2 linked regions of the Homo sapiens genome follow. The protein of the gene in region 1 interacts with the protein of each later gene in a pairwise test. Each region holds a gene or a part of one and is shown in the gene's direction. Other genes may lie near its edges. The genes, in order: UBL7 and AP1G1.

Region 1 (16,116 bases):
CCCCCAGAACCGGAAGCTTTGCAACTAGCGCCTCTTGTAGACTGGCTGTTTATAAGGGGGCGGGGGGCCACAGCGGGAACTGCAACTCCCAGAATGCAGCGCGGAATTTCCGGTTTCCGGCGAGAGGGCCAGAGTGAGTGTTTACACCGGCGGCAGTGCGGCCGGGTTCCTTCCGCGGGACGGGTGAGGGCGCTGGGGCCCTGGGCAGCGCGGGCTCGATGTGTGTCAGCCAAGTAGCTGGTCCCACTGGAGCGGTGAGGTCGCCACCGGATAGTGTTCCTGCCCCATTACTAGCGATCTGTGACCTTGGGCCAGTGATTTTACTGAGTCTTGCTTCCCTCATCTTTAAAATGTGGCTAATGCCTGCCTTAGGGAACCGTTGTGAGGATTAAGTGAGACATGGTATATAAAACGACCTCCTTCTGGCATAAACTTGAGGTGGAAGATACCTTGAGGATGCTTGAAGGTCTGCTAGGCAGCTTCACAGCCTTTTCTTTCCTCTTCTCTATCAGAGGTCTCTTTGGAAGCAATAATGATGACTATAACAAGAACTTATCTTGCTTTGCAAGATTCTTCCGCCGTCAGAGTTTCTGATTTATTTTCTGGGGTTCCATGTATGCCAGGTATGGGGACAAGGATGAAGAAAACTTTAGTCTTTTGTTTTCAAGGGCATTCAAGAATTGGGGTGGAGGAGGGGGCAAGCAGATATTTGTAGCCCTTTTGTTCTGAGGGGATGTGGGAACAACAGAGGAAAGAGAGGGGACTGAGGTTATTGAATCTGTGTTGGTTTCGGTAGGAGTTTGCTAAAAGGCCAAAAAGGGAAGAGAAATTACATGCAGAGTTAGATGAGCAGAGGTGTAAAATAGGGGAGAGCTTTGTTATGAGTGTGTACTTACATGTTGTGGAGGTCCTTTGCAGGGGTAGGGCTCTGTTGGGGAATGAGGCTGGCAGGGAGTTTTGTAAGCCAGGCGATGAAGTTTAGACTTAATTTATATAGATGGTTTAGAGGTATTGGAAGAGGTCTTTTTCTGGGGGGCCGGGGTGGGGCAGGGAGGGACGGAGTCTCTGTCGCCCAAGCTGGAGTGCAGTGGCGCTATCTCGGCTCACTGCAACCTCCACCTCCCGGGTTCAAGCAATTCTCCTGCCTCAGCCTCTCAAGTAGCTGGGATTACAAGCGCCTGCCACCACGCCCTGCAAATTTTTTCTATTATAGTAGAGATGTAGTTTCACCATGTTGGCCAGGCTGGTTTCAAACACCTGATCTTAAGTGATCCGTCCTCCGCGGCCTCCCAAAGTGACAGGATTACAGGTGTGAGCCACCGCGTCTGGCTTTTTTTTTTTTTTTTTTTTTTTTTTTTGCGACAGAGTCTCTCTCTGTCACCCAGGCTGGAGTGCAGTGACGTGATCTTGGCTCACTGCAACCTCAGCCTTCCGAGTAGGTGGCACTACAGGTGCGCACTACCACGCCCAGCTAATTTTTGTATTTTTAGTAGTGACGGGTTTCACCATGTTGGCCAGGCTGGTCTTGAACTCTTGAGCTTAGGCAATCCGCCCGCCTAGGCCTCTCAAAGTGCTAGGGTTACAGGCATGAGCCACCGCGCCCAGCCCGACATTGGAAGAGTTCTAAGCAGAGAAGTGACTTGGTCAGATCTGTGTTTTAGAATGATGGGTTGTGGCCAGGCGCAGTCGCTCATGCCTGTAATCCCAGCACTTTGGGAGGCCGAGGCAGGTGGATCACGAGGTCAGGAGATCGAGACCATCCTGGCTAACACAGTGAAACCCCGTCTCTACTAAAAGTACAAAAAAAAAAAAAAATTAGCCTGGCGTCGTGGCGGGTGCCTGTAGTCCCTGCTACCTGGGAGGCTGAGGCAGGAAGGCAGGAGAATGGCGTGAACCTGGGAGGTGGAGCTTGCAGTGAGCCGAGATCGCGCCGCTGCACTCCAGCCTGGGCAACAGAGCGAGACTCCGTCTCAAAAAAAAAAAAAAAAATGATGGGTGTTGTTAGGTGGCAGCATAGATATTTGATAGGGAGAGGCAAGAGGCAGGGAACTTGTTATAAAGCTGTTCTACTGGTTCAAGCAACAGTTGAAGAAAATTGGAAAAAGGGGCATACAGAAGGGAGAGGGTTAGATGATCTCTCTCACAACATTCCTATTAGATTGGATGGCGTTTTTATGTCCACGTTAGGGATGAAGAAACTGAGGCCTAGAGAGCTGTCCATCACAGTATGAGTAGAGAGAGAACCCCAGATTCTAGTTCTGGCCTCCTGATGGTACGCCCTATGCCTCTTCAACAGTGTCACATTGAATTGTCTTTCATTCAACCCTTTGGTGGGTGGGGGTGGAGTAGAGTGGTGGTCTGTCTTTTAACCACTGAGGTTTTGTTCTTTTACAGGGAGAAAGAGAGAGCGCGAAAGAGAGAGGATGTCTCTCTCAGACTGGCACCTGGCGGTGAAGCTGGCTGACCAGCCACTTACTCCAAAGTCTATTCTTCGGTTGCCAGAGACAGAACTGGGAGAATACTCGCTAGGGGGCTATAGTATTTCATTTCTGAAGCAGCTTATTGCTGGCAAACTCCAGGAGTCTGTTCCAGACCCTGAGCTGATTGGTGAGTCTCTCTGGACTGGGGTTGGGCTGCTGCTCTGATCTCTTTTGGGGGAGGATACTTCTGGAATTACAAGAGTAAAGTAAGGGCTTGGGATTTGTTGCCTCATAATGTTAACACTCCAGGGAAGTGAATGTTGGGTAAATAGAAACACAAATCATATAATGAAACTATTGGTTGCCATTTCAGCCATGTATTATACTGAACTACCTTATCACCAGGTTCTTTATGACATTGTCTTGTTTTTTGTTTTTGTTTTTGTTTTGCTGTGTAGCCCAGGCTGGAGTGCAGTGGTGCGATCTCGGCTCACTGCAACCTCTGTCTCCTGGGTCCCAGTTCAAGCAATTCTGCCTCAGCCTCCCGAGTAGCTGGGATTACAGGCACACACCACCATGCCCAGCTAATTTTTGTATTTTTAGTAGAGACATGGGATTTCACCATGTTGGCCAGGCTGGTCTTGAACTCCTAACCTTGTGATTCTGCCCGCCTCAGCCTCCCAAAATGCTGGGATTACAGGCATGAGCCACCGCTCCTGGCCAACATTGTGAATTCTTTTTCTGAAAGAACAGAAGTTTGGGATGAGTTAGGAAAGGAGAAGTTGGTCAGGGGAGGCTCCTCAGTATATTTGAGGTAGGTCTTCAGGGATGATTAGAAGGATTTTTGCTTGGTTGACTGAGTAAAGGAAAGGCAGTAAAAAAGAAAAAGTGGCGTGGGCAGTCCAGGTGGAGGAGGGAGGAATTTAAATATAATTAAATTACACTGAAAAGGTAATTTTTAATAGCTAAAGGATCCAACTGGCAAGAAAGATGTTTTCAGTCATACCTGGATTGGGTTCATCCTATTTTGTTGTTTTTCCATTGATTTAAATTGGGCAGCCTCCACAATGTTAAACTCCAGAGTTTTTCTGTGGATAGATTCTGTGTGAATCCTTTTTTTTTTTTTTTTTTTTTGAGACGGAGTCTTGCTCTGTTGCCCAGGCTGGAGTGCAGTGGCGAGATCTCAGCTCATTGTAACCTCTGTCTCCCAGGTTCAGGCAATTTTCCTGCCTCAGCCTCCTGAATAACTGGGATTACAGGCCCGCACAACCACAACTGGCTAATTTTTGTGTGTATGTGTGTATATATATATATATTTCTTTTTTTTTGAGACAGAGTCTTGCTCTGTTGCCCAGGCTGGAGTGCAGTGGTGTGATCTTGGCTCACTGCAACCTCCGCCTCCTGGGTTCAAGCAATTCTCCTGCTTCAGCCTCCTGAGTAGCAGGGATTACAGGCGTCTGCCACCATGCCTGGCTAATTTTTGTATTTTTGGTAGAGACGAGGTTTACCATCTTGGCCAGGCTGGCCTTGAACTCCTGACCTCAGGTGATCCACCCACCTCGGCCTCCCAAAGTGTTGGGATTACAGGTGTGAGCCACCGTGCCCGGCCCTAATTTTCGCCATGGCCCAGGTTTCGCCATGTCGGCCAGGCTCCAAAAGTGCTGGGTTTATAGGTGTGAGCCACCACATCTGGCCAGATTCGATGTAAGTCCATTTTATGAGTTTATATTTGCAAATAGTTGTTGAAATGTATTTAATTGGCTAGGCATGGTGGTTCACGCCTGTCATCCCAGCACTTTGTGAGGCTAAGGCAGGAGGATCCCTTGAGCCCAGGAGTTAAGAGACTAGTCTAGGCAACATGGCAAAACCCCGTCTCTACAAAAAACTACAAAAATTAGCTGGGTGTGGTGGCATGTGCCTGTAGTCCCAGCTACTCAGGAGGCTAAGGTGGGAGAATTGCTTGACCCCAGGAGGTTGAGGCTGCAGTGAACCGTGATGGTGCCATTGCACTCAAGCCTGGGCAACAGAGTAAGACCCTGTTTTCCAAAAAAAAAAAAGTATTTGTTAAGTTATTGAATAAGAGTATCTTTTAAAACATGTATCATTCTCCAGCTATCTAATCAAAATAAGGTTCTCGGGACAAAAACCATGTAAATTTGTTTTGAGGAGCAAAATATAAGTGGACAGTTCTTTTTTTAGATCTGATCTACTGTGGTCGGAAGCTAAAAGATGACCAGACACTTGACTTCTATGGCATTCAACCTGGGTCCACTGTCCATGTTCTGCGAAAGTCCTGGCCTGAACCTGATCAGAAACCGGGTGAGTGAGGGGCAGCCCTTAGGCAGGCAGAGTTTCTGTAATATCCGCAAGGGAAGGATCTGTGTGTTCTTGAGGCACAAGCCTGGGTGGAACAAAGGGATGATTTACTGAGCTGATGATAAATGATATCTTTATTACTTATTGGATTAGACCATGCTGATAAACAGAGTCCAATTTTGACCTTCTTACTGCCGGCATCACTAATGGAAGATTTGTTTCTCCATTTTGTTTTTTGTTTTTTGGTTTTTTTGAGACAGTCTCACTCTGTTGCCCAGGCTGGAGTGCAGTGGCACAATCTTGATCTTGGATCACTGCAACCTCCGCCTCCCAGGTTCAAGTGATTCTCATGCCTCAGCCTCCCGAGTAGCTGGGATTACAGGCATGAGTCACCATGCCCAGCTAATTTTTTTTTTTTTTTTTTTTCTGAGACGGAGTCTCACTCTGTCTCACAGGCTGGAGTGCAGTGGTGTGATCTTGGCTCACTGCAAGCTCCGCCTCCCGGGTTCACACCATTCTCCTGCCTCAGCCTCCCAGGTAGCTGGGACTACAGGCGCCCACCACCAAGCCTGGCTAATTTTTTTTGTGTTTTTTAGTAGAGACGGGGTTTCACCGTGTTAGCCAGGATGGTCTCGATCTCCTGACCTTGTGATCTGCCCGCCTCGGCCTCCCAAAGTGCTGGGATTAAAGGCGTGAGCCACTGTACCCGGCCTTCAATTTTTGTATTTTTAGTAGAGACGGGGTGTCTCCATGTTGGTCAACCTGGTCTCGAACTCCTGACCTCAAGCCATCCACCCCACCTCAGCCTCCCAAAGTACAGGCACCATTCCTGGCTTGTTTCTCCACTTTCTAAGTTTGTCATCCACTGTTTCCTAATGGGACAGGGAGTTTGTGTCTACTTAAACTCCTTTAAGTTAACAGTTTATTTTTTAGTGATACAAAGTAAACTTTGTATCCTTTTGTTATTATCGTTGTTCTCATTAGAAAAAAGCTGGAAACTTTTGGCACTTTCCTAATGCTGCAGTTTATTCCCTTGTTAACAAATCTTCCTACAAACTGCCTCAGGTGGTGATTTGTTCAGTTAGCTAACTGCTCTTGCTATACTGGTATTTTCCTGAAGATATTCAAAGAGTATTTAAATAGCTCTTGGAGAAAATATACAAAGCCTCAGATGCCTTTTTGGTTTATAAATAGAAGGTGCTTGGAATTCATGATTTAAATTTTGCATGTGTGTTTTAAAAGCCTCCCTAAGAATAAAGCTAAGCTGTGTAAAAGAGATTAGCTTTGTTACACTGGCAGGTTGACATCTTTTTATAATGTTCATGATTGCTGTGACTAGTTATCAGTTTGAAATTTACCCCCCTTTCAGTTCTAACTGTAAAAGACAAAAATGTCTTTCATACCCTGATGGGAAGTGAGAAAGAGGAACAGAGTTCCTGACATCCAGAGGTTGGCCTGGCACTCACAGCCAGGCCCTGGAATCCTTTTGGGGATCATGAACAATTGTACAGATCCCCAGTAGCAGTCAAGGCCACTCTGAGACCACTATGGATTAAGACAAAAACAAGATCCCTATTATTGCTGAACAGAAACACAAAAACATGAGCATTATCCAAACCACAAAGGTGACCAAGTATCTTTCTATCTTGGCTGATGAGAGTAACAGCTGCTTCTTGGCCAATTACAGCTTCCACCTTGCTCTAGTTTTCCTTCCTTCTAGGTAAGAGTTATTAAGATACTCAATTATAAAATCACTCCCACTGCCTGAAAGCATCCTATCCAGAGTAAAACCTCACTTCTTTAAATTTTTCCCCAAATCAGCCAGACAAAACCAAAATCCTGTAAGAAGTCCTTTCTGGCCGGGTGCAGCAGCTTACGCCTGTAATCCCAGAACTTTGGGAGGCCGAGGTGGGCGGATCACCTGAGATTGGGAGTTCGAGACAAGCCTGACCAACATGGAGAAACCCCGTCTATACTAAAAATACAAAATTAGCCAGGCATGGTGGTGCCTGCTTGTAATCCCAGCTACTTGAGAGGCTGACGCAGGAGAATCGGTTGAACCCAAGAGGCAGAGGTTGCAATGAGCCGAGATCACGCCATTGTATTCCAGCCTGGGCAACAAGAGCGAAACTCTGTCTCAAAAAAAAAAAAGTCCTTTCTAATATCCTCTTACTGAGACAGCCCACGGTTTCCTGTGGTGTGCATTCTTCTCTCTGTACTGAGCAGTAAACCCAACTTGTTTAAATACAGATATGCCCCTCAGCTCTTTGGCTGGAGGGCATTAACAGAAGGAAAATAACATTTGTGGCTTCTGTGAGCCAGGTTTTTTCCCTTTTATACCTCATTTAATCATTACAGTGGCCCTGCAGGGTAGGTAACAGCATTAGCATCTTATGGAGGAAGAAAAGGGTTAGGGCATTTATTCAAGGTCAGCTACTTAGAAAGTGAATGCAAGAGCTGGGATATGGACCAGGGGTTTTCCTGGCTCAAGAGGAAAACCATTTCCACTGGGCTGGCTGCGTTCCACTTCTAAAGGATGAATTTAGCTCAGAGATCTTACAGTGACAGCCATGGCTCTTAGCTGAATAATGGCTTAAGATATTAAGAGTCCTTTTCCTCCCACCTTCTACCTGGAGGATTATTTTTGAAACAAATGACCTTTTTATTGGAAGGTTACAATAAACTTTTAGATCTGTAAAGAAACTGTTTTGTGACAGTGTTTTAGATATTTGCTCCTTGAGTGCTTTTCTTCACAAAGGAATCACATTTTGTGTTCTCCCACAGATTAGGGCCTATAGGAGAAGAACCCATTGTTGTCTGTCTTCCCACCTGGATCTCTTTGGTAGTCCTCCATGGCGGGTTACAAATCCCTTCAGGACGTCACCTTAACCTGCTGTTTGAGCTGGAATGTGTACCCCAAGCTCCAGCCACAAAGAATGACTTGCTGTTTGTTCAAAGCACCACATTCTTTTATTCTCCCATGCCTTTGCACATGTTCTCATTCAGGCTTGGAATACCTTCACCCCCCCAGTAAATATCAGCTCTCTCTTTGATACCCATTTCAAATGGTCTCCTCTGGGAGGCAGCTGTCTATCTTCACCCTCCCTCTCAGTGGTGCCTGTCTGCCTTTGTGTTCCTGGTACCCTAGCTGGGATCCACGTCTCTGTTGAGGTCTTCAACGTGGCATTTTGTAATTGTGTATTTGATGTAGTCTCATTTCTCCTCCTGCCCTAAGAGTTCCTTGATGGCAGGGGTTCTTATTTTTCATATTCTAGTTCCTTGCCTAAAGCCAGGCATGGAGTAAATGCTTAGTACATGTTTGTTGAATGAATAAATTAGGTAATTTACTTAAGATGACTGTTTTTCAAAAGACAGCCTCATGATCAGGACTGTCGATAAGGATGTGGCTGCCACCCTGAACCCCAGGGGTGCTATTCACCTTGCTTTGGGAGTGGTGCCCTGGAGTTGGGCAGTACACAGTCAGTACAGTCACAAGTAGTGGTCCTTCGTGAGGATAACCATACTTTAAAAAGTGTGACCCAGGGCTGGGCACGGTGGCTCACGCCTGTAATCCTAGCACTTTGGGAGGCCGAGGTGTGTGGATCACTTGAGGTCAGGAGTTTGAGACCAGCCTGACCAATATGGTGAAACCCCATCTCAACTAAAAATACAAAAATTATCCAGGAGTGGTGTTGCACACCTGTAATCCCAGCTACTCAGGAGGCTGAGGCACGAGAGTTGCTTCAACCAGGGAGGTGGAGGTTGCAGCGAGCCGAGATTGCGCCACTGCATTCTGGCTGGGCAAGAGGTGAGACTGTCTGAAAAACAAAGGCAAAAACACCAAAAAACAAATGTTATTAGTCTAGAATTCCTGCAGTGGTATGTTGATCAGAGCACCGTTTTTCATGTGGTAAGAGTCTCCTCTGCTGCAACTTGAATTTGTTTGTTTATCTGTGCAAGATGCTTACAAGTGAATGTAAAGATGCTTACTAGCAGTTTTCACATCCATGGCACAAATGGGTTTTTCTGAGCAGGCACTCACATTCTTAAGGGGTGATGAGGGAAGGGAATGCACAGACCAGGCTGCTCCTTGGCACATGCTGAAATGATGTTGCCATGTCTGTGGCAGAGACAGGACCTGCGCTATAGGGTAACTCTGAATGTCTTGTCCCCCAGAACCTGTGGACAAAGTGGCTGCCATGAGAGAGTTCCGGGTGTTGCACACTGCCCTGCACAGCAGCTCCTCTTACAGGGAGGCGGTGAGTGTGTGCTGCGGCCCCCAGCCAGGACTGTAGGAGAGGGTGTGAACGCTGGCTGGCGAGTGGTGTGGAGTGGGAGCTGGAAGCCCGTTGCCATGGCAACCAAGAGTTCCTTGGGGAGTTTTTGCCATGTCTGTGGGCCTCAGTAGAGCCCTGTCTTTCCCCAAAGAGCCTGTCTCAGTCAGGCGTTGTTGATTCCCTCTAATGATAATAATACAACCTGCCCGTATGGTGACAGCCAAAAGATCCTCATACTGTTTCTGCTGGGCCTCATTCTTCGACTTTGGCTGAACTGCCTGCTTACTGCCCCTTGACCTAGATGTCCTCACTGGGGAAGTGGGCTGATGTCTTTCTGTAGGAGAGTTGAGAGGCAAAATTAGTATAGCTGTGAACTTAGCGATATATACAAATATGAAATAGTAATTGTACAGAGATTGAAAAGGACTTTTGGATTGGAACCTAGAGAAACCTTTGTTACCGGGCTTGTAATGAGAGCTTTTATTTTGGAAGCACTAAACTGTAGGTGGGGAAAAGGAGCACAGAGATTTGAAGGTTTACTGTGGTCTTGCCTTTTTTTTTTTTAAATTGTTTGTTTCCCCTCCAGTAAGCTAAGATCTTAGAGCAAAAAGAGGTTCATCTGTTTCTGGGGCTATTGTTCCATTGTGGTGATGTACATGCAAGCACTTAGAGGGAGGAAGTCCTTTGGCAGAGTGTGGGCATTTGATGAGTACATTGAGCTGGTTGGAGTGCTCAGCCCCCGCCATTTCTCCTGCAGGTCTTTAAGATGCTCAGCAATAAGGAGTCTCTGGATCAGATCATTGTGGCCACCCCAGGCCTCAGCAGTGACCCTATTGCTCTTGGTAAGTGCAGGACTGAATTTGAGGAAATAGGAGTTGTCGGAAAAGGAGAAAACAGGAGAAGACAATTCCTCTAAAGAGACTTGGACTATCTTTTGAAGAATGACTGGTCTTGTGGGAAGAGGGAGAGTAATCAAGGTGTGTTTGATATCCCCAGCCCTTTAAGAGCTCTCAGTCCCACAGAGAGATAATGGCCTAACTAACATCGTAAATAAGGGTATGAGGATGCCAAATGAGGATAGCAGTTAGCCCACATCACAGCAATCAGGGAAGGCGTCCTGCACACCCTGAGTAAGGGAAGAACCCAGAGATACGGGAGAAAGAGACAGGTGTCTTGGTACCCAGTCTGTGATGTGACTAAAGTGCAGGGGAGGTGGAGAGCAGGGGACCATCCTCACTAGACCAAGATGAGGAGTACCTGAATTGTATTGCTTGGCGCTTTGCTTCCTCTACTTCTCATGAAGATTGGCTTGTTGTCCTGTGTCCCTGTTGAGCTGGTTGCTCTGAGACGCAAAGCCTCTTCTCCCTCCTGGATCTGGCTGATTTCCTTTCTTTGAGGTGAGCTCTGCTCTTTTTCAGGGGTTCTCCAGGACAAGGACCTCTTCTCTGTCTTCGCTGATCCCAATATGCTTGATACGTAAGTGTACCTGTCCTATTAGAGGGTACCTTCTCTCTCCTCGTGCTCAGGCCAGAAGCCTAATTGTCACCCTGCAGTCTGCTCTGGGAGCCCATCCATAGTCTGTCACCAAGTCTACCCCTTAGATACGTCAGGGGGTGAGAAAGAGCAAAGCCCAAGAGCAGGGCTTTTGTCAAGAGTGCTGGGAGGAAGCAGGATTCTGAGGGAAAGGGTCTTGTCTGCCAGGCTCAGTTTAGGTTTCGTGTGGTAGAAATTAGGGAGCTTTTCAAGGATTTTAAGCTGGCAAAAGGAGAAGCAGGTGTACAGATCCGTAAAGTGTCAAAGCTAAAAGGGACATGTCCTCATTTTGCAAGTGAAGAAAACAGCCCCACCCTGGGAAGAGAAGGGACCAGTCCAGGGTTGCCTGATGTAGTAGTGGTGCCTAGACCAGACACTCCTCATGTGCTCAGGCCAGAACCCTGAGCCTCCCAGGCTGCACCTTTCCCATCATGCCTTGCCTGTGGAGAGGGTGAAGAATCTGCAGCGGACCCCAGGAATTTGAAGGCCTTGCACCCGTTGCTGGGGGCAGATCAGCAGGAGGATAAAGCTTCCTGGTGGAAGATGCTAAAGACTGAGGAATTTGAGAGCAGGCACAGGTGGCTGCATTGTTGTGAGGGGGCACCCAGAACTCCTGTTATGGCTGAGGGTGCTCTTTTGGAGTCACCCTTGGGTTTCTTCCTGCTTCTATCCTAGGTTGGTGCCTGCTCACCCAGCCCTCGTCAATGCCATTGTCCTGGTTCTGCACTCCGTAGCAGGCAGTGCCCCAATGCCTGGGACTGACTCCTCTTCCCGGAGCATGCCCTCCAGCTCATACCGGGATATGCCAGGTGAGCGCCTGAAAAGTGTAATGTGGGCCCCTCAGGAGCCGGCAGTGGCCCAGGAATTTGCTTTACTCAGCAGCTATGTATAGCGTTGGCAGAGGGCGTTCCTTGGGAACTCTCGGTTTGAGTCAGGAAGTGCATCTGTCCTGTAATTTTCCGAGGGGAGAGATGAAAATATGAATTTGGAGAGTAACTTGAGCTGAGATTCTGGAGCTGCGCCTGTGCCTTTCTGTTCTTCCTCCTGAAATCTGTTCGTCCTCCTCCAGGTGGCTTCCTGTTTGAAGGGCTCTCAGATGATGAGGATGACTTTCACCCAGTAAGTGGCCTGCCTGCCTGCCTGACATGCTGACATGTGGGGGAGATGGTGCTGGGAATGAGCTGCATCCTGGGACCTGGCACTCCCAAGGCTGGGAGATGGACATACGCCATTGGGGGGCCAAGACCATGTCATACTATTTCTGCTTTTGGATTCCTTTCTGAACCTGGGAACTTAAGAGTTTCCCCAAGAACTATTGCTGGAGGTGGGTGGAGTTCATCTGGGAGTTTCACAGTACTGCTTCCCTGATTCTGAGTGTCTTCTTTCTCCAGAACACCAGGTCCACACCCTCTAGCAGTACTCCCAGCTCCCGCCCAGCCTCCCTGGGGTACAGTGGAGCTGCTGGGCCCCGGCCCATCACCCAGAGTGAGCTGGCCACCGCCTTGGCCCTGGCCAGCACTCCGGAGAGCAGCTCTCACACACCGACTCCTGGCACCCAGGTATGAAGACGGGGCCGGGAAGATCAAGGCTGGGCCCCCAAGGAACAAGCTCCCCAGCAGTAGAGTAGATTTGCCTTTGCTGACCCTGGTGCTAGATCTAGTTTAAGCTGAACCCTGGAGTCCTGGTGGGGATTTCTTACTGCAGCTTGAGTGACCTCCCCTTCACTTGCCTTGAGGACTCAGAAGTCTAGATTTTAACATGGTCCCGTGTAGTCCCCCCTATTAGTTCAGAAGACTCTTCCTGCACACAATATGCCCTTCCTCATCCCTGACAGGGAGCAGACATCACCAGCTTAAGCATTTCTGGGTGACAAGTCACTTCAGCTTTCAAGGCCATCTCTCCCAGTGCTGCAGTGCTGGGGTCCTAGGCTGGGACAAGGGGCTCAGTGCAGAAGAGAATGGAACCTTTCCTGCCCACATAGAGAGCTTCTAGTTACCTTTGTTTGGTTGTCTTATGGCAGGTCTTTGTTGGGAGGCAGAAGTTGGGTACCTCAGGAGTGCTGTGAGGTGATATGACAACAGCGAGCATCTGCTATAAGATTGAGATGGCGCTGAGGGTGGCACTGACCACTAATTTGTCTCTAGGGTCATTCCTCAGGGACCTCACCAATGTCCTCTGGTGTCCAGTCAGGGACGCCCATCACCAATGATCTCTTCAGCCAAGCCCTACAGCATGCCCTTCAGGCCTCTGGGCAGCCCAGCCTTCAGGTCAGTCTTCCCCACGTCTTGGTTTCCATGTGGCTTCCTTGTTATTTTGGATGCCCAGCCTTTGTTTTGCTCTCTGGCGGTCCTTCACACCTGGCATGCTTCATTCTAGGAACAGCTGGAGCATGGCAGTGGGACAGGTGCAGAGTGTTCCTAGCAAGGGCACACTCTCAGACCATACACAGTGGTCACTAGGCTTCTCCTGCCCCTAGTGACCATGGCCTGACTCCCTAGACCACCTGGCTTAGATAATCATGGCCATTTCATTCATTCATTCAGTGATCATTGACTGAGCATGTGTATACTAGGCCTGAGTCCAGATGCTGGGCTAGTGGCAAGCTGGTTCTCATCCCTGCCATGGAGGGGCACCAGGCAGGCACTGAGCTGGGGAGCAACAAGGCAAGAAACCCAGCTGCTTGAAGTAAGGGCCTAGGTCAGACAAAACTTTTCTGAGAGAGGGGTATTTAAGCTGATTGTCAGAAGAATTAGTTAGAAGTTAGCTAGCCAGGGAAGGGGGTTTGAGGTAGGAAGGGGCTGATTTCCAGGTGAAGACAGCTACCTGTTTGTGCACATGTGTGGAGGTATATGTGACATACTCAAAACTACAAGGCTAGGATGCAGTGTCCAGTGTAGAAGATCCGCAGATGGGGCCAGAGAAAGAGCAGGAGCCTACGAGAGGGGCTTGCATGCCAACCTGCGGAGATTAGACTTGATGACTTGATGTAGCAGTCACCAGGGATCCCTGGGAGGCATTGATTGATTGATTGATTGATTGAGACAGGGTGTCACTCTGTCACCCAGGCTGGAGTACAGTGGTGTGATCACAACTTACTGTAGCCTCAACTTCCTGGGCTCAGGTGATCCTCCCACCTCAGCCTCCCGGGTAGCTGGGACTACAGGTATGCACCACCATGCCTGGCTAATTTTTTGTATTTTTTGTAGAGATGGGGGGGTCTCCCTATGTTGCCCAGCCTGGTCTTGAACTCTTGGGCTCAAGCGATTCACCCACCTTAGCCTCCCAGAGTTCTGGGATTACAGGTGTGAGCCACCACACCTGGCCCATGGGAGGCTTTAAGGAGGAGAAAGGTCACCCTAGCAGCTAAGTGGAATACCTGAGGGGCCAGCATTGTAGTTCACAGCTCCATGCATGAGCAGTTTGGTTCACGTCTGTTTTCCTCTATTCCACATAGTAAGCCTATGGGTAGAGCATCATCCCTGGAACTTGTCTGGGGTCATAAGGCCATGAAGTCGTAACGATAGGGTTCAAGCCTGTGTGGTTTTCACTGTTCCATGTGGTCCTTGTAGACAGTGAGGGAACAGAAGCAGGATTCGTGAACAACTTGTCTTCTCCATTCTTGCATCTCCCCTGTTGCTAGATGCCTGTTTACTTTATTCCCTAGCTCAGAAGCTTTCACTGGTTCCACCTGGCCTGTAAAATGAATTCAAATTGATCTGTGTGCATTTTTTTTAAGCCCTCCATGTTCTCATCACTGCCTGCCTCTTTGACTTTGCTTTTCTTCCCCTTTGCATTGCCTTCTTCCCACATGTGAACACGTTGTTTTCCCTAAATTGTGCTCATCCCTGCTGTCATGAAATAGAGATATTAATGAAGCTATGAAAGTACTAGAAGAAAATATGGGTGAATTTCTTCAAATCCTTATAGTAGGGAAGGGCTTTCTTGGCTGAAACTCAGTATCCAGGAGCCATTAAATAAAAGTTATGCATTTTGGGTTTGTAAAAGCGAAAAATTTAAAACATCTCTTACAGTCCACAAATAGATATACCTACTATATACCACAAAAATTTAAGACATTTAAAAAAAGGTGAAAATTTCTGCGTGGCAAACCAAACCAAACAAAAAACCGAAGCAAAGTCCAAAGGCTAACAAACTGGGAAAAAAATCTGTAACACTCATCACATAAAGAGCAAAATCTTGCTGTTGTGTGTGTACACATAGCAAGAGAAAGAAAGTAATTTAGCCTCTTGGAATTCAGACAGTGAATAATTTGTACATTCTCTTTTGATCCTTATGCCAAGAATTTCCTTTTTTTATTGTAAAACTTTGGATTTGTTCTCTTAACCCTCAAGCCTATCTTTTAGTCTTCCTAGAAGCACCGTGTTCTGTGGAACTCAGCATCAGCAGCTTTGCTGAGGACTCCCCCATCTTCCTTTCCTTCCCCGGAAAGCACAGACCTAAGTGAGTCTTCACTGGATCCCAGCTAACAGCTTCTGCCCATTCCTATCTTTCCACAGAGCCAGTGGCAGCCCCAGCTGCAGCAGCTACGTGACATGGGCATCCAGGACGATGAGCTGAGCCTGCGGGCCCTGCAGGCCACCGGTGGGGACATCCAAGCAGCCCTGGAGCTCATCTTTGCTGGAGGAGCCCCATGAACTCCCTGCTTCCCCTGAACCCCCAGCAAGTTGCAGAGGCTACTGCCCTTGGGAGGCACTCATGAAGGTGCCTCCATCTCTCCCTTCCCCAATATACCTGATGGTCAACTCTCCTGCTTTGTCCAGTTCTTGACCTTTCTGGCTGATCTGAGTTGGTGGAGGCAGTGGGGCAAACAAGGTGTGCTGGTCTTGATGCTGTGGCATCAAAGCAGGGCTGGCCCCTAGTTCTGGGCCCTGGATGGAGGATGTTAGACCCTACATCATGGGATGCTGTGAGATACCCATGTTAACTTCTGGGAGAAGTTTCCAGCCGTAGCCCCCAGACTCTCTGGGGCTTTGGAGTTTGGGAGCCTCAGGATGTGCCGAAGTCTAGGCAGAGCTATCACCCAATCTTCAGGGTGGCTGCTGGATTACAGCTGTGCCCAGAAGAGGCTTATGCTTCCGAGATGTCCAGTCTATGGAGTGGCTGGGTGGACTTTCAGGGGAAGCACATGGAGGCAGCTTGCCTTCCACATTTCTCTCTCTCTCAATGGCTTCCACAGATTTCTTTGTCCACCCCACCAGTCTATTCTCACCAAGCATTTTTTGATGCTTGTTCTGTAATGATTCCAGAATCCAGGCCTCAGAGCTTCGCCAGGAGGTAGGGCCCTCCTTGTCCTGAAGGCATAAATACAAGAGCAGTTAAATAGCAATACTAAAAAACAACACCAACATGAACAGGGCTCAGCTTTAATATTGAAGAGAGGGCACCAACCCCCAAGCTGTTGCTCCATCTGCCTGTGCTCACTCATGTTCCCCTTGGCATGGCGTTCCCTGTGATGTTCCCTGCGGCATCGCAGACATGTCCAAGTTGAGAAAGTGGGTTTTAAATGCTTTGAATACTTCGTTGGGAGAACACTTCTTCCCCTCAGATGG
Region 2 (16,116 bases), on another chromosome or scaffold:
AGTTTAATTCTGTGTGGTCTAAGAGCATACTGTCTATGATTTATGTTATTTGAAATTTGTTAAGATATTTTTTATGACCCAGAATATGGTCTTTCTTGGTTCAGTGTAAGTTTAAGAAAAATGTGTATTCTGCTGCTGTTGAATGAAGTAGTCTTATTATACAAACCCATTAGATCACCCTGATGCTTTCTTGTATTTAATGCACTCTGCTTTACGGAAGGATGTAAATAAACTATACTGCAAATTACCTGCTTTTTAGCTTCTCACCTTTCCTTCTGATCATTTTCCCAGAATTCTTCCTCTGTCTTTGTGTTTCTTAACAGGAGTGACCTGATAAAACCCTGATCACCTGGCTGTTTTTTTTTTTTTTTCTTTTTTTTCCTTTCCAAAATACACATGGTTAGGACTGGTCTCAGTCTTACAAATTAAATCTATTGTTCTATTTAGGAATGGGAGATTGACCAAGGTTGGGTGATAAAGTTTTAAACCTTTACATTATTATTATTATTATTATTATTGTTGGTAGTGATGGAGTCTTGCTGTGTGGCCCAGGCTTGTGTCAAACTCCTGGCCTCAAGCAGTCATCTTGCTTCAGCCATCCAAAGTGCTGCGATTACAGGTGTGAGCCACTGTGTCCAGCCTTCCTTTTTTAATTTGGACAAAGAGAAATTTTTTTTTTTTTTTTTTTGAGACGGAGTCTCAGTCTGTTGCTCAGGCTGGAGTGCAGTGGCGCAAACTCGGCTCACTGCAAGCTCGGCCTCCTGGGTTCACGCCATTCTGCTGTCTCAGCCTCCTGAGTAGCTGGGACTACAAGCACCCACCACATGCCCGGCTAATTTTTTGTATTTTTAGTAGAGACGGGGTTTCATCGTGTTAGCCAGGATGGTCTCGATCTCCTGACCTTGTGATCCACCCGCCTTGGCCTCCCAAAGTGCTGGGATTACAGGCGTGAGCCACCACACCCGGCCTTTGGACAAAGAGAAAATTTTTAAAAATAAAATAAAATTTAAAAATGTAACATATTTAAATAAGACTTTGAAGTTTGAGCTGTTATGAACCTGAGAATTGGAACCAAATTTATCTTTGAGGGTGTTTTCTGGTATTCTTCTTTTAAAAACAATAGTAATGGCTGGGCGCAGTGGCACACGCCTGTAATCCCAGCACTTTGAGAGGCCGAGGCAGGTGGATCATCTGAGGTCAGGAGTTCGAGACCACCCTGACCAACATGGTGAAACCCCATCTCTACTAAAAATAGAAAAAATTAGCCAGGTGTGGTGGCATGTACCTGTAGTCCCAGCTACTTGGGAGGCTGAGGCATGAGAATCGCTTGAACCTGGGAGGTGGAGGTTGCAGTGAGCCAAGATCGCGCTATCGCACTCCAGCCTGGGTGACAGAGCGAGACTCTGTCTCAAAAAAAGAAAGGAAAAAACACACAGTAATAATAATAGCTAACACTTGTTATCATCATTTCTGTGTGTTTCTAGGGGTAATTGTCTGCATTTCCTTTTAGGCAGGAAGTTATGTTCGTGATGATGCAGTCCCCAATTTAATCCAGTTAATAACTAATAGTGTGGAGATGCATGCCTATACTGTCCAGCGCCTGTACAAAGCAATTCTTGGTGATTATTCTCAAGTAAGTACTTCATTCAACTATTTTAGGGGGTAATTTTACCCTCAATTTTTCTGGTATGTTTTTCTTCTTTTTTTTCCCCCCTCCTCTCTCCCCTTTGGTATGTCTTTATTTCTAACACTCTAGATATGCACAGTTTTGATCTTTATTATGAGATGACCTATGATTTGCATTAAATAACTTTGGAAAAATTGAAGTTCTTGAGAAACGTTGACTTTTCTTTTCACAGCAACCTTTGGTACAAGTGGCTGCATGGTGTATAGGTGAATATGGTGATCTTCTTGTATCTGGCCAGTGTGAAGAGGAAGAGCCTATTCAGGTACTCCTTGTCACTCTTGGTTAAGTGGGGGAAAATAGTGGTTTTGGTTATAGGAGAGTAGTGTTTAATGGGGAGTTGAGGTTGATTCCTTGAAAACTTTTTAGGCCAGGCGTGGTGGCTCATGCCTATAATCCCAGCGCTTTGGGAGGCTGAGATGGGAGCATCGCTTGAGCCCAGGAGTTTGAGACCAGCCTGGGCAACATGGTGAAACTCTGTCTCTACAAAAGACACAAATATTAGACAGGTATGATGGTGTCTAGTCCCAGCTACTCAGGAGTGAGACCCTGTCTCAAAAAAATTTAAAAAATACCCAACTTTTTAAAGAAGCAAACGCGAATTATATTGGAAAACCTGCCATTTTTTGAGATGGAACTTATTGAGCCATTGTGAGGTTTTTTGTTTTTTTTTTTTTAATAGAGTCTCACTCTGTCACCCAAGCTGGAGTGCCATGGTGGGATCACAATTCACTGCAGCCTTGATCTCCTGGGTTTCAAGCGATCTTCCCACCTCAGCCTCCTGAGTAGCTGGGACTATAGGCAGGCACCACCCTGGCTAGTTTATTCTACTTTTTTTTTGTAGAGACAGGGTTTCACCGTGTTGCCCAGGCTGGTCTTGAACTTCTGGACTCAAGCAATCTGCCTGCCTTGGCCTCTCAAAGTGTTGGGATTAACAGGCATTGCTGAGTGTGGTGGCTCATGCCTGTAATCCCAGCACTTTGGGAGGCCAAGGCGGGTGGATCATGAGGTCACCTGCAGGGTGGTTAGCCAGACCATCCTGGCTAACACAGTGAAACCCTATCTCTACTAAAAAGTAGAAAAAATTGGCCGGGCGTGGTGGCAGGCACCTGTAGTCCCAGCTACTCGGGAGGCTGAGGCAGGAGAATGGCGTGAACCCGGGAGGTGGAGCTTGCAGTGAGCCAAGATTGCGCCACTGCATTCCAGCCTGGGTGACAGAGCCAGACTCCGTCTCAAAACAAAAAAAACAAAAAAAAAACAAAACAGGTGTGAGCCACTTTGCCTGGCCCCATTGTGAGATTTTAAAACCACTTTAGGCCCAAGTCTCTGTCCTAGTGGACTGAATTACTGTTTCTCTTACCCTCTGGCTGGTAAACAAGAAGAAATGAGACATGTATCCATGTTCTTATTTGCACATTAAAGGACTGGCTTTAAAAGGGAAAATTGTGGCAACAACACTTGAACTCTGTATGTTTTTCTTTTCTTCTTCTGTTTCTGCCACTTGAAGCTCTAATATTGCCTCTCAGCCCCAGTGGTCATTTTTCACTCTTTTTACCCCCACCTGCTCTGGTTGATAGAACCAGAGCACTTTTTTTTACCCCCAACTACTCTGGTTGATAGAACAGCTTGGACAGTTACCCTGGCAAAGCACAGGTTGAGTTAGAGGCTTTTGTAACGGTAGGATTGTCTTTCTGGCTGCTTCCCCTGACTTGATATCAGATTTAGATGCTTAATCATGCTACTCATTCTTCATCGTCTTCTTTTTCCTCCTCCTCCTCAGGTAACAGAGGATGAAGTGTTGGATATTTTAGAAAGTGTCCTAATCTCTAATATGTCCACCTCTGTGACACGAGGTTATGCCCTCACTGCCATTATGAAGCTTTCCACTCGATTCACTTGTACTGTAAAGTGAGTATTGAAGAAACATAGGGTGAACAGGTTGTTTTGTAATTAAAAAACAAAAAAAATCCCAAAAAACTTGTTATCATGGAAAATTTCAAGCATAGACAAAAGTAGAGAGAATAATAACACAAATTTCCATTACTTATTTCTCCACAGTCACAGTGATCAATTTGTGGTTAATCTTTATTCATCAGCACTTTGTTCCCTCTCATTCTTTTACTCCCTTGTGGATTATTTTGAAGCAGAAAAGTTTAGGGGGTTTTGTTTGTTTGTTGAGACAGGGTCTCGCTCTCTTACCCAGGATGGGGTGCAGTGGCGCCATCATATTTTACTGCAACCTTGAACTCCTGGGCTTAAGGGATCTTCCTGTCTCAGCCTCCAGAGGAGCTGGGACTATAAGTGCACACCATCGTGCCTGGCTAATTTTTACATTTTTTTGTAGAGAAAGTGTTTCGTTTGTTTGCCCAGGCTGGTCTCAAACTCCTGGGCTCAAGTGATCCTCCTGCCCTGACCTCCCAAAGTGCAGGGATTACAGATGTGACCCACTCCACCTGGCCTAAAAGTTACGTTTTTAGAATGAGATTTCTAATACCTTTTTTTTTTCTTTTTAAGTTGAGAATCTACTTCCCCATATAAAGGTTTTGGTTTATTTGTATTTTATATTTCATTTTATTTTATGACAGAATCTTGCTCTGTTGCCAGGCTGGAGTGCAGTGGCATACAATCTCGGCTCACTGCAATCTCCATCTCCAGGGTTCAAGCAATTCTCCTGCCTCAGCCTCCTGAGTAGCTGGGATTACAGGCGCACACCACCATGCCTGGCTAATTTTTGTATTTTTTGGTGGAGATGGGGTTTCACCATTTTGGCCAGACTGGTCTCGAACTCCTGACCTTGTAATCTGGCCAAGGTTTTGGTTTATTATATTTTGACAAGTCTTAATAGGAATAAAATCATGAATGTTTTGGTGATTAAATCTTTTAATTCTCCTCTTTGCTTTTTTGAATAAAGTAGATTCTCAGGTCACTTTCCCACCCAAGCATATTTAAGGCCAACGTAGTTCTTGTAGTCTTTCTGCTTCACTTTTAAATGTGAAGTCTTATAAAAAATGGTATTGAATTACTTTTAAAATTCTGAACTGGAAGAATTTGGGGTCAACATTTTGAGGCTCTGACCCTTTTATAGATTAAAAATTATTTAAAAATTATCAAAGAAGAGAATGAACAGTACAAATTTCTTTTGTGGCAAAGTAATAGTTGGTACTTTTGTCTAGCAAAGTTTAGGGAGTGGCATATATATATGTGTTTTTTCCACACCATCATTGTTGCTGAATGGGGATGGCATATTTAACAGACAAAAATCTAGTGTTACAATGAGAATAGTATAATGCGAATGTCAGATAAATGGATGAAAGTAAAGTGTTTTGTTTTTGAAAAACTATATAAATTAAGAAAAAATGAGTATTTCAGTATTTTAACCAGAAAATTCTGGCTTATTAAACATTATCTCTGCTTATTTGTGAATTTTCTTTTGGGTATTTTATTTCGTTTGTCATTTTATCTATAGCCGAATTAAGAAAGTGGTTTCCATCTACGGAAGCAGCATTGATGTGGAACTCCAGCAGAGGGCAGTAGAATATAATGCACTTTTCAAGAAATATGACCACATGAGGTGAGCGAAAGAAACTAAGCAATGCGTGTATCTCTTAGCATCCTGACTAAATTGTCATGGTAATCCATAAAGAAGATTCATTCCTTGTGCTTTATTAATTGTTCCTCGTATCCCTATTTAGTTCTAATTGCTTGTCTGCTTCTGTTTTGTCCATCTTCTATTCTGCCTAGTCTCTAAAGAAATAAATTAACTCTCTTTCATTCCACCTCCAACACTTACACTTTTTTTGATATGGAAAGTTTGCTTTATTTTCTATTTTATTTAGTTAAGAAGTGGGAGGCCGGGCGTGGTGGCTCACGCCTGTAATCCCAGCACTTTGGGAGGCCGAGGCGGGCAGATCACGAGGTCAAGAGATCGAGACCATCCTGGCCAACATGGTGAAACCCCGTCTCTACTAAAAATACAAAAAAATTAGTTGGGCATGGTGGCGCATGCCTGTATTCCCAGCTACTCGAGAGGCTGAAGCAGGAGAATCATTTGAACCTGGGAGGCGGATGTTTCAGTGAGCCAAGATCATGCCACTGCACTCCAGCCTGGCGACAGAGCAAGACTCTGTCTCAAAAAAAAAAGAAGTGGGAGTTGTATTTTTTCAAGACAAATAATCTCATTCAAATTCTTTTACTGTTAACATTCTAGTGTTTGGGTCATCTTTTATTCTTCTATTATACAGTATCTTCTTGACTGTTAATACCTATGGATTTACCTTTCTTTCATCTCAGTCTCTCTACCACTGAAATATATGCTTTGGGATTTAGCTGGGCAGTCTGTTTATTCAAGATTTTTTTGTCTGCCCTTAATCCAGCCAGGAATTTAGGTCATGTATTCTTGTAATCTACCTTCTATTTTAGTGTGTGTGTTGGATGGGGAGGGGAGATAGATCTCCATGCTTGGGCTCAACATAGTTAATGGTGATTATTTTGGGTAGGGAATCTAGGTTAACTGCCTAGAATTTAACCACTTCAGATTCTTCTAGGTCTGCCCTACTTGAGAGAATGCCTGTCATGGAAAAAGTGACCACAAATGGCCCTACTGAGATTGTGCAGACAAATGGAGAGACAGAACCAGCTCCACTAGAGACCAAACCGCCACCCTCTGGGCCACAGCCCACCAGCCAGGTAGCCAGCCTTTCACTTGCTCATCTGGGGCTTCTTACGATTTTATAGTCCCTTACAGCTTGTCTCTTAGCTGAGTCCCTTTAATGTTCCTGGGTTGGTTGATGATTTCCTTCCTTATTTTTACATATTGAAAGAGCTTTGCATTAGATGTATACTAGACAAATCAAATAATAATGAATTGAGGTGTTGTTACCTTGTTTAGGCCAATGATTTATTGGATTTGTTGGGAGGAAATGACATAACACCTGTTATTCCAACTGCGCCTACAAGCAAACCATCTTCTGCTGGTGGAGAACTTCTTGATTTGCTGGGAGACATCAACCTTACAGGTGAGGCAGTCTGGAGCTATTTAATACCTGGGAAAAGATAGAGGCCTCAGGGAAAAACTAAACTGAACCCAGACTTTCCAGCACGTGAATCATTTGAAGATGGGAGAGGCTAAATCAGAAGCAAGAGTCAAATCTTCACAATATCCGGGTTATATGTTGTATACTAATAATGCTCTAAAGATAATTTATACGGATTTCTTAAAGGCAAACTCCTAATTTTGGGTGAATAAATTATTCATAGTGTTTTAAGATAGAAACTACTTTTCCTGGCTGGGCGCAGTGGCTCATGCCTGTAATCCCAGCACTTTGGGAGGCAGAGGCAGGTGGATCACCTGAGGTCAGGAGTTCTAGACCAGCCTGGCCAACATGGTGAAACGCCATCTCTACTAAAAATACAACAATTAGCCGGGTGAAGTGGTGCATGCCTATAATCCCAGCTACTCCGGAGGCTGAGGCAGGAGAATCGCTTGAACCTGAGAGACGGAGGTTGCAGTGAGCCGAGATCGCGCCAGTGTGTACTGCAGCCTGGGTGACAGAGCAAGACTCTGTCTCCAAAAAAAAAAAAAAAAAAACACACTTTCTCTTTCAAGCTCAAAAAATATATCCCGTATCACCTTTGCTTTTAGTGTCCCAAGACATGACTTCTTCTTGGTTCCTTCCCACTAATGGTTAGTTTTCAGTAGCTGTGGCCATTTGTGGAGAGATGTTAACCTGCTACTTACCTCTTCCCTTTCACACTTTCTGTAATTAAAGCAACTGAAGGGCAATCACTCATAATATTCAAACATAACTTTTCATTTGGGAATATTTTTTCTTCTGTTCATATATACCAGTCATTTGTAATTGACATGTTCAGCAATATGATAAACCCGAGTCCAATACAACTTTTATTTTTATTTTGAGATGGAGTCTTGCTCTGTTGCACAGGCTGGAGTGCAGTGGCACGATCTCGACTCACTGCAACCTCCGCCTCCCGGGTTCAAGCGATTCTTCTGCCTCAGCCTCCTGAGTAGCTGGGATCACAGGCACGCACCACCATGCCCTGGCTAATTTTCGTATTTTTAGTAGAGATGGGGTTTCTCCATGTTCGTCAGGCTGGTCCTGAACTCCTGACCTCATGATCCCCCTGCCTCGGCCTCCCAAAGTGCTGGGATTACAGGCGTGAGCCACTTCGCCTGGCCTTTTTTTTTTTTTTTTTGAGACAGAGTCTCACTCTGTCACCCAGGCTGGAGTGCAGTAGCATGATCTCGGCTCACTGCAGCCTCTGCAACCTGGGTTCAAGCAGGTCTCCTGCCTCAGCCTCCTGAATAGCTGGGATTACAGGCGCCTGCTACTGCGCCTGGCTAATTTTTGTAGTTTTAGGAGAGACAGGGTTTCACCATGTAGGCCAGGTTGGTCCCGACCTCGTGATCCACCCACCTCAGCCTCCCAAAGTGCTGGGATTACAGGTGTGAGCCACCACGCCTGGCCTACAACTTCTATCCTAAATTTCAGTGTAAAGTATAGCTGAAAGGTTAAAGTGTCTTTTTTTTTTTTTTTTTGAGACAGAGTCTCACTCTGTCAGCCAGGCTGGAGTGCAGTGGGATTATCTCGGCTCACTTCAACCTCTGCCTCCTGCGTTCAAGTGAGCCTCCTGCCTCAGCCTCCTGAGTAGCTGGGATTATAGGCGAATGCCACCATGCCCGGCTAATTTTTTGTATTTTTAGTAGAGACGGGGTTTTGCTGTCTTCTTTAAGAGGATAATGAAGAGTTAAAGCACACATGACCTTGAGTAAAAAATAGACATAGGATAACAAGTTGGATGGTTAGCTAAGCTCATTCCCACAGGCTGATTTTTTTTTTTCCTAATACAGTGGAGTCACAGAGTATAGGATTTATGTCTGTGTCTTAACAAAATTTCAAAATGTTACTTGTCATGTACTTATGAATCATTTACAAATGGTCAATTTCAAATCCTCAAATGTCAAAGCTGTACTGGATAACCGGCAAAGAAAAAACAACCCCACAGTTAAACCATAGCATATACTTCACCTAATATGTTAGTATTTCCATGTTAATATATATAGCCTTCATAATTATAATTTTAGGTGACTAATACTTTATCAACAAATTTGCTCTGTTTACTCAGTTCGTTAGTATTGGGTAGTTTGGCTTTTTTTTTTGGTTTTTTTGAAACGGAATCTTGCTTTGTTGCCCGGGCTGGAGTGCAACAGCACGATCTCGGCTCACTGCAACCTCTGCCTCCCGGGTTCAAGTGATTCTCCTGCCTCAGCCTCCCGAGTAGCTGGGATTTATAGGCACGTGCCACCATGCCCAGCTAATTTTTGTATTTTTTTATTAGAGATGGGGTTTCACCATGTTGGCCAGGCTGGTCTTGAACTCCTGACCTCAAATGATCCTCCCGCCTTGGCCTCCCAAAGTGCTGGGATTACAGGCATGAGTCACCGCACCCAGCCAGTATGGGGTATTTTGTTTCTAGATTTTTCTTACCTAGCGGCCTCAACAAATATTACATCAATTTGTTCTTATTTTAGATTAATTTGTTAGACTAAGTGACTTAGTCTTTCTGAATCTGGTTAAAATTAGGATGATTAATACTTACTCCATAAGATATTTGTGAGGCCCATTGACCTATTCAGTGCATGATACATAGTAGGCACTTGGTAAATATTATTTACCTTTTCCTCAATTTATATGTTTAACCGCACAGTCATAAGCATTGTATATTATCATTTTAAAAAGCCCTATTGGGTGAAAATTTGGTCCTATTATATTTTATTTTTATTATTATTTTTTAAATTTTGTAGCCCTCTGCCAGGCTTGGTCAGCAGAGAGAGGCCCTATTATTTTTTGATCACAGAGAATGTTTAATATTTATTCACATATTTGTATTATAGATGAGGTTCCTTTCTGAACATTCCTGTATCCTTAGCTCATTTATTGTGGAGTCTTTTCTTTTTGTTCCTACTGTCTTGTTTTCCTAGTGTTATATGTTAAAGCAAAATGATAAAATGTTAAAAAGTCTGGGTTTTCTTGCCTTATTCATAATGTGTTTTAAAGATGTTTTTCCACTTTTTACATTAAGTTTTAAAATTTTGAATTCTAGATTTCTTAATTTATCATTACAGTTTTACCCCATTATATAGAAATTTAAGTCAGTAGAAATTCAGAATAGATTTAACATGTGTTTTTAAAGGGTTTGGAGCAGTAAGTTTCTGCTCTTCTCCTAAACTACCTTGCTATACTTTTACAGGACAAAGAAAAGTGAAAATTTGAGGGAGTTGGGGACCTATATGCTGCCTGTATCTTGAGTAGCCTCTGATTTTCCATGAGAACACATTTCTAAAATTGTTTTGAAAATGGGAATTGGGGGAAATTTTCTCGATTTGATTTTTTAGACTAGGAGAACTGTATGAATATTTCTTTGTCTGCTTCATTGATAATCTGCTGGACTGCACAAATGGTGTTTGCATTTATTTTAGCTTCTCGTGCTTGCTTAGCCATCCGTATTTCTATTCTCTTTGCTAATTTTTAATATGTCATTTACTTGTTTTTGTTTTTGAGATGGTGTCTTGCTCTGTCACCCAGGCTGGAGTGCAATGGTGTGATCTTGGCTCACTGCAACCTTTGCCTCCCAGATTCAAGCGATTCTCCTGCCTCAGCCTCCCGAGTGGCTGGGACTATAGGCGCGTGCCACCACACCCGGCTAATTTTTGTATTTTTAGTAGAGATAGGGTTTCGCTGTGTTGGCCAGGCTGGTCTCAAACTCCTGACCTCAGGTGATCCACCCGCCTCGACCTCCCAAAGTGCTGGGATTACAGGCATGAGCCATCGCGCCCAGCCTGTCATTTACTTTTCTAGTATTCTTTAGTATCTTTTTTCCCCCTCATTCTTGCTGTCAATTTCTTAAAAAAAGATGATATTCTAGCCTTCCTTTATTTCATTGTGATAGTTCTTTTTTAAATGGCATATTTTCAGTTAATTTCACAAGTAGTTTGAAATCTATTTAAATATTAAATACATTCTCTTAATTTTACTGAATTTCCTTATGCTTCTTCTTCGAATCTTGATATCCCTCATGTTCTATGAATTATCTTCTATTGTATGATTGTCAAGTTGTTCTTATTTGGAAAGATTAAATAAGAATGGTAATCTATTTCTTTTTCCCACCCCACTTTATACCACCCCTCACAGGGTGCGTGTGTGTGTGTGAAAATTTTATTATACAGCATTTAACATCTACAAAATTTAATGAATGTTTTGATCTACCTAGTTTGTAAAATAAAATATTAAGAGGGTTGATGTTCTTTGTGTATTTCCCTCTCATCCCATTTCTTTTTGATTCCAGACGTAACTACTGTCTATCCTAAAGTAGTGTTTAACATTGGTGTTTGCCATTCCTGTGCATTTCTTGATATAGTATGTAGTATTATTTTGCCAATTTTTACCTTTTTAGACAAGGTATCCAACTGAATGTGTTCTTTTTTGCACCTTTTTTTGCTAAACATTGTAATTGTGAGAATGAGTTATGAATAATCCATGTTAAGTGTATTTCTAGTGAATTCACTTTTTACTGTTGTACATGTGTAGTATTTTAGTATATCAATATATCAGTTTACTTATTCATTATCAAGATGACAGACATTTTGGTTGTTTCCAGTATTTCACCATTAGGAGTGTTCCTGCTATGAATGCTTTTGGATGTATCTCCCAGTGAACACATGCAAGGATTAATTAAAAGCATTCCTAAGAAGGGGTAATCGGTTCTCAACTGGGGAAGATTTTGCCCTCCAGGGGTTGGCAGTGTCTGAAGATATTTTTGGTTGTTACAACTGGGAGGATGCTACCGTCTAATGCATAAAAGCCCAGGGGTGCTACTTAATATCCTACAATAAACAAGGCAGCCCCCTACAACAAAGAATTAGGAAGCCTAAAAGCTATTACTGTCAAGGTTGAGAAACCTCAGTTTAAGGATATACTGATGTTCAACTCTACTGTTGCCAAATTACTCTCTAGATTGGTTGTGCCAGTTTACCTTCCTATAGCAGAGCTTAAAATTTCCCATCGTTCCATCTTCTTGCCAACATCTGGAATTATCAGACATCGAAATTTTCACCATTCTGGTAGACATGAGGTAGTATCTCACTATAATTTTAAATTCCACTTCCATCATTACTGGTAAAATTGAGCATCTGTTTGTAAGATTCCCTTTTCATTCAGGTTTCCTCTTTTGTGACTTGCGTGTTTTTATATCTTGACACTTTTAAATTGGGTTATCTGTTTCTTATTGGTTTTATAGAAGACAGTTATCGTTTGGATACTTATCCATTCATTACTGTATAGCAAACATTTTCTCCTGTCTGTGGGCTCTCTCTCTTTACTTTTTTTTTTTTTTTTGCGACAGAGTCTCGCTCTGTCCCCCAGGCTGGAGTACAGTGGTGCAAGCTCACTGTAGCCTCAACTTTCCAGGCTCCAGTGATCCTCCCACTGCAGTCTCCCAAGTAGCTGGGACTACAGGCGCACACCACCATGCCTGGCTAATTTTTGTATTTTTTTTTGTAGAGACAGGGTCTCGCCATGTTGCTCAGACTGTACTTTTTCTTACAGTATTTTTTAATAAACAGAAGTTGCTCGTTTTAAAGTACTTGAGTTTTTAGTTCTTTCTCTTTGTGGTCTATGCTTTTTGCATCTTGTTTAAGGAATCTTTCCTTAACCTGAGACCGAAATAATTTTCCCTATAATTTCTTGGTAAGCTTTGTCATGCTGCCTAAGGTTAACTTTCCATTAAAATATTTCCTTTAGGTGCTCCAGCTGCTGCTCCTGCCCCTGCCTCAGTCCCACAGATATCCCAGCCCCCCTTCTTGTTGGATGGGCTTTCATCACAGCCTCTCTTCAATGATATTGCTGCAGGTACGATGACTGTTGTTACCATCATTACATGGAGCACTGAGTAATGAGATGTGGTTATTAAGAAAAAGAAGTAATAATTCTGCAAGCATTAGGCTGACTACAATAAGACTTATCTTCCTGTACTTTCTCAGGCATCCCCTCCATCACAGCATACAGTAAGAATGGCTTGAAGATAGAATTCACCTTTGAACGGTCAAATACCAACCCCAGTGTAACAGTGATAACGATACAGGCCTCCAACAGCACAGAGCTAGATATGACGGACTTTGTTTTCCAAGCTGCAGTACCAAAGGTACTACAATGTCTTCTTTAGATGTTTCCTTTGATTAAAGATTGGCTGGCTTTTTTTTTTCATGTGTTTGGTAAAGGATATGTTTTAATGTTTACAGATTAAATTTGTAGACTTAATTCAAACTAACAATAATGTAGCTTATGGTTCATGGAAGCATATCATTTTTAGTGAATAATTTTTACTAGGTTACAAGTATTCTGATGGTTAGCATTGTAGGATAAAGAAAAACAATTCTAATAGTAGTGAGAGCAGAATTCTACGAGGTGATCAGTTAATGCTCAGGGCATTGAGGATAGGTTAGGCTTTAGTAATACAGTGTTAAAGACCTAAAAACATAAAATATGGCATAGGATTAAAGTTAAGTAAGATGAGAGACTTTGTCTATCTGGTATTATCTTCTAGTTAACCAGATCAGAATTGAAATTTTTTCTCTCTTGATACATAAATGAGAGAAACATTCCTCCTTCGTTAACATCCAATTTATTATAGATACAGTAACTGTTTTTGTGAATCAAGGTTTGGTTTACACCAAATTTTAGTTTAAGGATATTTATGTTCATTTATGAATAGTGAAAAATCTTGAGGCCGGGTGCAGTGGCTCACGGCTGTAATCCCAGTACTTTGGGAGGCTGAGGCAGGCAGATCACTTGAGATCAGGAGTTCGAGAACCTGGCCAACATGGTGAAACTCCCGTCTCTACTAAAAGTACAAAAAAAAAAAAAAATTAGCCGGGCGTGATGGCAGGTTCCTCTAATCCCAGTTACTCGGGAGGCTGATGAGGCAGGAGAATTGCTTGAACCCAGGAGGCTGAGGATGCAGTGAGCTCAGATTATGCCACTGCACTCCAGCCTGGGTGACAGAGCGAGACTCCATCTCAAAACAAACAAACAAAGAGTTCTAAATAAAGAAAAGTTGAGAATGAGGAGTGGGTAGTTTTTCTTAAAAAGATGAGACAGTAAGTATTTTAGGCTGCTATCTGGTCTTTATTGGTACTCAGTTCTGCTCTTATAGTACAGAAACAGCTGTAGATGACATGTAAATGAATGAACATAGTTCTGTTCCAATAAAATGTTATTTGCAAAATCAGATGTTGGGCGATTCTTGGCCAGTGGGCCATAGTTTGCCAACCACTGGTTTAGACTAAGCTAACCTAATCTTGGCAGTGGCATGTGAAATATGGCATTTAGACATTCCGACAACACACTTGGACTTGGAAATTGAGGATGTTTTCTTTGTTTGTGGGTACTGCTGACTTTGCAGTCTTTTTTTATTTTTTCCCCATCCTCTGACTCTCATGCAACCCTCTTTGCTTACACTTTGTAGGAGCCAGAATAATTTAGATGTTTAAGAAGCAGTTAGCTGGACACGGTATCTCACGCCTGTAATCCCAGCAATTTGGGAGGCTGAGGCGGGTGGATCGCTTGAGCTCAGGAGTTTGAGACCAGCCTCAGCAACATGGTGAAACACCATCTTTACCAAAAATACAAAAAATTAGCCAGGTGCAATGGTGCGTGCCTGTGGTCCCAGCTACTCAGGAGGCTGAGGTGGGAGACTCACTTGAACCCAGGAGGTGGAAGTTGCAGTTAGCCAAGATCATGCCACTGCACTTTAGCCTGGGTGATAGAGTGAGACGCTGTCCAAAAAAAAGAAGAAAAAAAAGGGGAGCAGTAGTGTCAATTGGTGAAAGACCACTAATGAACTCTAGAGCCATTCTGTTTGGATTTTAGTAGTAGTTGTATGACATGAAGAAAGTCACTGAACCTCTATGCCTCAGTGTCTTCATTTGCAAAGAGGGTGGTGATAATGATAGCCACTTCCTAAGGTTGCTTAAAGGAATAAATAAGTTTTTTGAATCAGGCACTGTTTGAAGCACTTTTCATCTGTTCAGTGCTCAGTATATTTAGTTTCTTCAACTTAGGTTTTATACTTGTTACTTTAGGCTGCTGCTCTAGTGACTTATCACTTCTGCTATTAAAACATGACATTTTTGGTGGTGTACTGTACAGTGCAACATGATAATGTATTTTCAACTTAAAATGTCATATTTTGCTGGGCGCGGTGGCTCACGCCTGTAATCCCAGCACTTTGGGAGGCCGAGGCAGGCGGATCCCACGAGGTCAGGAGATTGAGACCATCCTGGCTAACACGGTGAAACCCCGTCTCTACTAAAAAAAAAAAAAAAAAAAAAATTAGCCGGGCGTGGTGGCGGGCGCCTGTAGTGTCAGCTACTTGGGAGGCTGAGGCGGGAGAATGGCGTGAGCCCGGGAGGTGGAGCTTGCAGTGAGCCGAGATCACCCCACTGGACTCCAGCCTGGGCAACAGAGCGAGACTCGTCTCAAAAAATAAATAAATAAATAAATAAATAAATAAATAAATAAATAAATAAATAATAAATTAGCCGGGCGTGGTGGCGGGCGCCTGTAGTCCCAGCTACTCAGGAGGCTGAGGCAGGAGAATGGCATGAACCTGGGAGATGGAGCTTGCAGTGAGCCGAGATCGCACCACTGCACTCCAGCCTGGGCGACAGAGCGAGACTCCATCTAAAAAAAAAAAAAAAGTCATATTTTATAGGTTCTACTATGTACTAATTTCGTGTTTTAATGTTTCTAAAATTAGGATACATTTAAAAATTGGTATCTTGTCATAATTCAGTGGGCAGCATGTTTTCTATCTCAGTGGTACATAAAATAATGGTGTGAATTACGATTGGTATCTTACATTTAATGAAATATGGTAGTAATGAATAATACTTTAGCTTACATAATTTTAATGTGGCAGAATTATGAATAAGACCATATATATATATATATATATATATATATATTTTTTTTTTTTTTTTTTTTGAGATGGAGTCTCACTCTGTCACCCAGGCAACCTCTGCCTCCTGGGTTCAAGCAAATCTCTTGCCTCAGCCTCCTGAGTAGCTGGGATTACAGGCATGCGCCACCATACCCAGCTAATTTTTGTATTTTTAGTAGAGATGGGGTTTTGCCATGTTGACCAGACTAATCTAGATCTCCTGACCTCAGGTGATCTGCCCGCCTTGGCCTCCCAAAGTGCTGGGAATACCGTGCCCAGCCCCCAGTGTAATATATCTGTACATTGAGAGTGAATCTTCACTCTTGCAACTTTTGGCCCTAGAGAAGACTAGTGTCTCTCTCTCTCAAATATTTTAGAAGTTTAATCTACTTTTAGGAAAGATTTTCAAATGCTAG

Evidence for each region.
Region 2: the proteins of UBL7 (region 1) and AP1G1 interact in binary tests that used the Homo sapiens proteins (3 or more experiments, as listed by UniProt).

The regions. Positions count from the first base shown.
Region 1 is NC_000015.10:74,445,175-74,461,290, reverse strand, and holds UBL7 (ubiquitin-like protein 7), read left to right. Parts: upstream 1-130; 5' UTR 131-254; exon of another isoform or gene 255-532; coding exon of another isoform or gene 533-623; intron 624-2,187; exon of another isoform or gene 2,188-2,272; intron 2,273-2,394; coding exon of another isoform or gene 2,395-2,423; coding exon 2,424-2,607; intron 2,608-4,619; coding exon 4,620-4,739; intron 4,740-8,912; coding exon 8,913-8,995; intron 8,996-9,770; coding exon 9,771-9,855; intron 9,856-10,431; coding exon 10,432-10,489; intron 10,490-11,221; coding exon 11,222-11,355; intron 11,356-11,615; coding exon 11,616-11,665; intron 11,666-11,937; coding exon 11,938-12,105; intron 12,106-12,690; coding exon 12,691-12,813; intron 12,814-15,063; coding exon 15,064-15,201; 3' UTR 15,202-15,314; downstream 15,315-16,116.
Region 2 is NC_000016.10:71,735,727-71,751,842, reverse strand, and holds part of AP1G1 (AP-1 complex subunit gamma-1), read left to right. Parts: intron 1-1,510; coding exon 1,511-1,633; intron 1,634-1,859; coding exon 1,860-1,949; intron 1,950-3,464; coding exon 3,465-3,592; intron 3,593-5,150; coding exon 5,151-5,255; intron 5,256-6,228; coding exon 6,229-6,370; intron 6,371-6,572; coding exon 6,573-6,699; intron 6,700-12,501; coding exon 12,502-12,609; intron 12,610-12,740; coding exon 12,741-12,901; intron 12,902-16,116. UniProt on the Homo sapiens protein: Subunit of clathrin-associated adaptor protein complex 1 that plays a role in protein sorting in the late-Golgi/trans-Golgi network (TGN) and/or endosomes.